2 linked regions of the Homo sapiens genome follow. The protein of the gene in region 1 purifies or fractionates together with the protein of each later gene. This does not show direct contact. Each region holds a gene or a part of one and is shown on either strand. Other genes may lie near its edges.

Evidence for each region. The genes of interacting proteins can lie anywhere in the genome.
Region 2: the proteins of CAPZB (region 1) and TNKS1BP1 purify together in Homo sapiens (co-immunoprecipitation; 5 studies listed by BioGRID and IntAct, with this or other methods). This does not show direct contact.

The regions. Positions count from the first base shown.
Region 1 is NC_000001.11:19,484,126-19,487,725, reverse strand, and holds the start of CAPZB (F-actin-capping protein subunit beta), read left to right. Parts: upstream 1-2,186; 5' UTR 2,187-2,287; coding exon 2,288-2,290; intron 2,291-3,070; exon of another isoform or gene 3,071-3,206; intron 3,207-3,430; exon of another isoform or gene 3,431-3,446; coding exon of another isoform or gene 3,447-3,536; intron 3,537-3,600. UniProt on the Homo sapiens protein: F-actin-capping proteins bind in a Ca(2+)-independent manner to the fast growing ends of actin filaments (barbed end) thereby blocking the exchange of subunits at these ends.
Region 2 is NC_000011.10:57,311,208-57,315,026, reverse strand, and holds part of TNKS1BP1 (182 kDa tankyrase-1-binding protein), read left to right. Parts: intron 1-1,137; coding exon 1,138-2,493; intron 2,494-3,508; exon of another isoform or gene 3,509-3,663; coding exon of another isoform or gene 3,664-3,789; intron 3,790-3,819.

The sequences.
Region 1 (3,600 bases):
TGCTATCCACACGGCTTGCTCCCTCCTTCCCTTCAGCTATATGATCAAATATTGCTAAGTTAGGCCTTGCCTGCCTACCTGTTTGCTTGAATTTTTCTCATTATCTCTAATCACTACCCGACACTGTATTATTATTATTACTATTTTATTTTTGAGACGAAGTCTCTCTCTGTCGCCCAGGCTGGAGTGCAGTGGCGCGATCTCGGCTCACTGCAAGCTCCGCCTCCCGGGTTCACGCCATTCTCCTGCCTCAGCCTCCCGAGTAGCTGGGACTACAGGCGCCCGTCATCCCGCCCAGCTAATTTTTTTATTTTTAGTAGAGACGGAGTTTCACCGTGTTAGCCAAGATGGTCTCGATCTCCTGACCCCGTGATCCGCCCACCTCGGCCTCCCAAAGTGCTAGGATTACAGGCGTGAGCCACTGCGCCCGGCCTCGGCTAACTTTGTGTATTTTTAGTAGACGGGGTTTCGCCATGTTAGCCAGGCTGATCTGGAACTCCTGACTTCAAGCGATTGCCCACCTCGGCCTCCCAAAGTGCTGAGATTACAGGCGTGAGCCACTGTGCCTGGCCTTGGACACTGTATTTGCCTGGTGGCCGACTGTCTCCCTGACAACACTCAAGCTCCACAACCATGTGGGTTATTTTGCTCATTGCTCTATTTCCAGAGCCTAGCACAGTGCTTGGCACATAGCAGATGCTCAATAAGTATCTACTGCGTGTGCCATTCTCTTCCTTGAATTTCTGTAATACTCATCCAATACCATTCTTGCGAGACTTACCCGTATGCTTTTTCTGCCAGTGGCTACCTGTGAAAGCTTCGACTTGTCTATGAGCTCCCTGAGGACAGGGCCTGGCTCAGGGAAACAATTCCTGTCATCTGTGCAGTTTACCATCCCCTCACAGATCGCCTAATTTGATTTAACCAAAGCAAACAGGCCACGGAGGCAGATATTGTTAGCAATCCAGATCTCTCCTGCTACCTAGACTAAGCTTAACAAATATTTGATTGAGAGAGAGAGAGAGAGATTGGGAGAGAGAAACTTGAGTCACTTTGTGGAGCGAGGAAGCCCTTCTGGGCTAATGGAATGGTTCTCTGTAGCACATTCAACAGTACTCATAACAGCTAGCATTTGTTGAACTTAATTTTTTTTCTTTTGAGACAGAGTCTTGCTCTGTCGCCAGGCTGGGGTGCAGTGGCGCGATCTTGGCTCACTGCAACCTCTGCCCCCGGGTTCAAACGATTCTCCTGCCTCAGCCTCCCGAGTAGCTGGGACTATAGGAGCGAACCACCACGCCCAGCTAATTTTTGTATTTTTAGTAGAAACGGGGTTTCACCATGTTGGCCAGGATGGTCTCGATCTCTTGACCTTGGCCCGCCTCGGCCTTCCAAAGTGCTGGGATTACAGGCGTGAGCCACCGCGGCCGACCTGTTGAACTTAATTTTCTAATCTCTACCTGTGTCATCCTCACAGATATTCTGTCTGCAGCTATACCGGCAGGGATCTTTATGTCTTATCTGTTATCTTCCGGTGCCTAAACAAGGCCTGGCACATAGTAGGTGCTGAATAAATGGCGTCAGCCCGAGGCTCCTCAATTCGTGCCCGGGCTCAGGTGCAGCGCGGCGCTCCAGATCCTGCCGTAGCGAGCGGCAGCGCTGGGCTCCTGCCCCGCTCCCGGCGCGCTCCCCCAGTGCTGGGTTGGGCTGGGTTGGGCTGGGCCGGGCCGGTCCGCGCTCGGCGGCAGTTCCGGGTGCGCCGCAGGAGTGAGCGCGTGCACGGGGTGGGGCGCGGAGGGCCGGTCCCCTCCCAGCCGCGGTGCCTTCCGCATCCCCGCCCGCGGGGACTGTGGGGTGCGGTTCCCTCGCCGCCACTCGCTGCTGCAGGCCCAGAGTCGGGGACTGGACCTCAGACAGCCAGGAGACCTTTCCGCCCCGGCCCGCAACCCGTGCCGGGGACTCCCGGCAGCCGCGCCGCGCAGCGCCGCGCCCCGCCCCGCCTCGCAGGCCCCGCCCCCGCACCCCGTCGGCGCCCGCCTCTCGCGCCGCTCTCCATACTTGGCGATCGCCGCAGCCCCGCGCGCTCATTGGCCGCGAGCTGGCGGCGTGGGGGGCGGGCCCGGGCCGGGCCGGGGCGGGGAAGGAAGGTGGCGGCGGCCCGGCGCGGGGGGAGGGGGGTGCTGACCCGGATGTTCACTCCTGGGCACCCGGGGAAGTGGAAGCGCCGGGCCCTGCTGCGGGGGGGAGAGCCACTGACGCCGGGACCGGGACCGCCGCCGCCGCCGCCACCATGGTAAAGGCCGCACGGCCCCCTCCCCGGCCCGGGGGCCCCTCCGGAGCTCGCGTCCCCCTCCCCCTGCCCATCCCTGGCCTGGGACGGGTGGCTTCCCGGGGTGGGGGAGGGGCGGGGTCCCGGACCCTGGGTGGACCCGGTCCCTCCCCGCCCAGGAGGGTGCCGCCGGCGCGGACGACTTGGGTGGCAGTGACCCTGCCCCCGCTCCCAGCCCCCGCCCTTGGCGCAAGCTGGAGTCCCACTCACTACCTCTGTGTTCAGGCTGGTCTCTCCCATAGCCCAGGCTAGACCCTCCCTCCCGAACCGTGTCCCCAGCCAGGCACCCCCTCGGTGACCCTGGCGTGGGCCCCCTTCCTCCCCCGGTCTAGGGCTAGGTCTGCTTTCCCCCGTCTCTCCGGCCCAGGCTAGGCCGTCGTTTCTCCCTGCCATGGCCCAGGCTAGGCCGCTGCCTCCCTCTGTCCCTCCCCCTTTGCCTTCTCCATGGCCTCAGGCTGGACCCCGGTCAGCCCCTTCTGCAGCGGCCTAGGTTTGCTTCCCCTCTTCTCCGTGGCCTCAGCCTGAATCTCCTCTTCTCTCTGTGAACTTAAATCTGGACCTCCTCTTCTCCGCCCATGGCCCCCGTCTGGACCTCACTGCCCCCTCCCCACCATGATCCCCTTCCCTGGACTTTTCGCCACTCCTAGCGTAACCTGCGTCAGCCCCGCTCGGTCCCCGCCCTGAGCCTCTCATCAGGGTCCTGCCCCCTGCCTGGTGCACGACCCAGGGTCCCCTTCCCTGTACCTGGGGCGCGCCTTCTTTGCAGCCTTTGGGGAGCGAGGGGAGCTCTCCATCAGGGATGGGGTGGTCCCGGTGCTGTGCCTTCTCAGTTGCCGCTTCTAGGGAGGCCGCCTAGGAGCCAGCGAGGGAAGGGCGGGCATCGGTGTGCCCAGAAGGCAGCGCGCTGCTCTGCGGGCCCTTCTCGAGGCTGCCGCCGTGGGTGCTGTGCGTGCGAAGCATTCTGCAGGGCAGGCCGGGGTCCACGGCGCCCGGGCCTGAGTGGGAGCCGAGGGGCGAGGATGGGTGGCCCACAGGACAAGGATGAACGCACAATCGCCCTTGTGAGGCCGTGGCCTTGGGGGGCCACCAGGCCCTGGATCCAGCATATGGCCTGGACACGATGCACCCAAGCAGGCGCAGCCTCCCCTTCCCTCTGAACTGTCAGCTTGCAAGGGTTGGAACTGCTGATTATGGAAGTCCCTCGGATCAGGTGAGCAGAACGCCTAGGGAGAGTGCTGGCTCCGCTCGTGGTGTTTGTTTTGGTAAAGAAGGCA
Region 2 (3,819 bases), on another chromosome or scaffold:
GCGGTTATGGTTTTCAAGGAATGATGGGTGCGTAAGGGTCAATAACAAGAAAGAATTGTGGGTGCTGTAGTTTAAGGGCACGAGCTTTGACATTAGAACGTTGCAGAGGGGAGTGAGCATGGAGGGAACAGAAGGGACCTTGAGAAGCAAGCAGGACCCTTTATTTTGCCCAGGCCTAGTAGGTGATGATGTGGGAGAATTAACGACATGGGAGAGGGCGGCCAGGGAAGTGTGACCTCTGCAGAGGGCAAAGGTCAGATGGAGCCAGAGTCACTTCATTGTCTGGGGACAGGTGGAGTGCCAGGTGCTTGGTGCCTTGTTTGTCCCCCTCTTCTCTCCACGTCCTCCCCACTCTCTGCCGCCATCATCCCATGAGTCCTATGCCGAGGGGCCAGTGCACACATTTCCCTTCACCCTCACCTAACTGGGAGATGAGCATTGTTGCCACCAGCCCTAATGTACAGATGGGGAAGCTGAGGCTCAGAGAGACCAAGTGTCTGCCATATGTGAGGGAGGGCACATGCTGGTAAGAGGCAGTGCTGGGACGGCTCAAGCCAGGCGCTGTCACACCCCCCAGTGCCTTTTGCCTGGGTCCCATAGCCTTCCTGCTTCCTTGGCACCTTCTGTGCCATGAGGGGCACCCCCTGCACGCTGTAGCCACTCCCCCGAGCTGCTCTGTAGCTGCACTGCACCTCGAATCCTGCTTGGACGCGAAACCCTCTCTCCCCTCACGACTCCCACATGCTGAGGTGCTTCAAGAGCCAGATTCACAATGTTCCTTTTCCCTTTATAAAGCAGGTGTTATGGACCCCGAACTGTGGCCTCTGAGGAGATCCTCACATGAGCTTTGGGTTGAGTGGGTGAGGGGTTCCAACCACCTGAGACGAAAGGAATTATGCTTTGTGAATAAGGATAGGCGCATTCTGGGGAAGAAGGTCTAAAGGGGGCTCTGTGAGAAGTCCTGCCTTGAGTCGTCTGTGGGGCCCCTCCCAGCTATCCCAAGAGGACCCCCTCGGGTTCCAGTTGCCTCCTCCCAGCCTGGGAGAAGCTGACCTGGGGTCTGTGTGGGGTCGGAGGGGACCCTCCCCGCCCCGCTGAGAGGTGAGTGACGGATCTTGACCTTTCTTTCTCTTGCAGATTTCCAAGCCCTGGATTCCCTCAAGTCCAGCCCCCTCCTCAGAGAATGGAGGCCCTGCCAGCCCAGGCCTCCCCGCAGAAGCCTCAGGCTCAGGCCCTGGCTCTCCCCATCTTCACCCGCCTGATAAGAGTTCTCCCTGCCACTCACAGCTTCTGGAAGCCCAGACTCCTGAAGCTTCCCAGGCTTCTCCCTGCCCCGCTGTGACTCCATCAGCTCCAAGTGCAGCCCTGCCTGACGAGGGCTCCCGCCACACCCCCAGCCCGGGGCTCCCTGCCGAGGGGGCTCCAGAGGCCCCCAGACCCAGCAGCCCACCCCCTGAGGTCTTGGAGCCCCATAGCCTGGATCAGCCCCCTGCCACCTCACCCCGGCCCCTGATCGAGGTGGGTGAGTTGCTGGATCTCACTCGGACGTTTCCATCTGGCGGGGAGGAGGAGGCCAAGGGTGACGCACACCTCCGCCCCACCAGCCTGGTTCAGCGCCGATTCTCTGAAGGTGTGCTCCAGTCACCCAGTCAGGACCAGGAGAAGCTGGGGGGCTCGCTGGCTGCCCTGCCCCAAGGCCAGGGGAGCCAGTTGGCCCTGGATCGTCCCTTTGGGGCAGAGTCCAACTGGAGCTTATCACAGTCCTTCGAATGGACCTTCCCCACGAGGCCCTCGGGTCTGGGCGTGTGGCGGCTGGACTCCCCGCCTCCCTCCCCCATCACTGAAGCCAGTGAGGCCGCCGAGGCTGCTGAGGCTGGCAACTTGGCCGTTTCCAGCAGGGAAGAAGGAGTGTCTCAGCAGGGGCAAGGGGCTGGGTCAGCTCCAAGTGGGTCAGGAAGTTCCTGGGTGCAGGGGGATGATCCAAGCATGTCCCTCACCCAGAAGGGCGATGGGGAGAGTCAACCTCAATTCCCAGCTGTTCCCCTTGAGCCCCTGCCTACAACTGAGGGCACACCTGGATTACCTTTGCAGCAGGCAGAGGAGAGATACGAGTCGCAGGAGCCCTTGGCTGGACAGGAGTCCCCTCTCCCCCTGGCTACCAGGGAGGCAGCCTTGCCCATCCTGGAGCCAGTCCTGGGGCAGGAGCAGCCAGCAGCCCCTGACCAGCCCTGTGTTCTCTTTGCTGATGCCCCTGAGCCTGGACAGGCACTGCCTGTTGAGGAGGAGGCCGTGACCCTAGCCCGGGCTGAGACCACCCAAGCCAGGACAGAGGCTCAAGACTTGTGTAGGGCATCCCCCGAGCCTCCAGGCCCTGAAAGCAGCTCCCGCTGGCTGGACGACCTCCTGGCTTCACCACCACCCAGTGGTGGCGGTGCAAGGCGGGGAGCTGGAGCTGAGCTGAAGGACACACAGTCCCCAAGTACCTGCTCTGAGGTGAGAATGGGCATAGGGAGAATGGGACTTCTGGGGACAGAGGCCAGGGCTTGGGTGGGCTTCATTCTTTGAACATGGATTTTACATGTCGAGAGCTTGGGCTGTGGTAGTGAGCAAGGCAGCTGTGGACCTGCAGATTGTAGCTCTGCAGAGCCACACAGGACGGTGTGTGTGTGGGGTTTCGTGTGAGGCTCTATCCCAGCTCCAGCAATCGCTAGCTGATTGGTCTTGGGAAGAACGTACCTTAACTGCTGGGCTTCAGAGTGCTTTCCTGATAGTAGCATTGGCCTCTTAGAGTTATATTGTGGGTAAATCGAGGTGGAAAGCTCTCGGCACAGTGCGTGGCAGGTGCTGAGTATTCAGTCTCTCATTATGGGAATATCGTTCAAGGCAAAATAGTGTAGCCATTTAGAGCGTGGGCTCCTGGGTTCATCTCCTGGCTCTGCTTTCCTTTGCCCAGGTGTGACCTTAAAAGAGTGACTTTTCTGCCCTCTGCCTCAGTTTCCACATCTGTAAAATGTGGATAACAAGATGAGTTCTACCTCCAAGGGTGTTGGCAAGGGTTCAATGAGCTGTAATGTCTAAAGTGCTAAGAATAGTGCCTGGCTCATCCTAAGTGCTTAAGAAGTGTTGGCTTTTACAAACGTTATTAACATTGAGCTCCAGACCTGCTTTGTAGACAGGCAGCTGGGCCTCAGAGGAGGTTAGCCTTGTGCAGTTATCCAGCAAGTTGGTGGCTGGGCCCGGGCCAGCGCCGTTTCCCGGCCCAGTGCCCTTTCTCCTACCAGGCTGCCTCTGAATTTAAGGGCCGGGGGCCAGGTGGCTTTCGAAATTTATTTCTCAAGCCGGGCCTGGGCTGCAAGGGGCGGGGCTGCAGGAAAGGAGGAGCCAGGGGGCCTCTGGGGGCTGCGGGGCGGGGAGAAGGAGGAGCAGGAAGGGGTTAAGCTGACTCCTGTAGTAGGTGTGTCTGTCCCGGGATGTGGGTGACTCAACTGGCTCCTGGGCGGGGCTGCCCAAGCTGCAGCTGCTCCGGAGGGAGCAGGGCCAGGGTGAGGGAGAGCCAGCGCCAGAGCCGTCGGACAGGTCCCAGCGCGGGTAGCAGCCCAGCTCTATCCCTGCGCCCGGCTGGCCGCACCCAGCAGCCCCAAGGCGGGTTGGGGGCGGGGGGCCATGGCCCAGCCTGGGGATGGGGAGGCCAGCATGTCTATCCTGGAGCGGCTGCTGGCCAACGCTGCGCTGAGGGATGAGGCTGGCCGGCTCCGAAGCCCTGAGCCCAGGGCTCTCCCGCCCACAAGGGTGAGTCAGGGAGCGTGAGGTGGGGGGTGG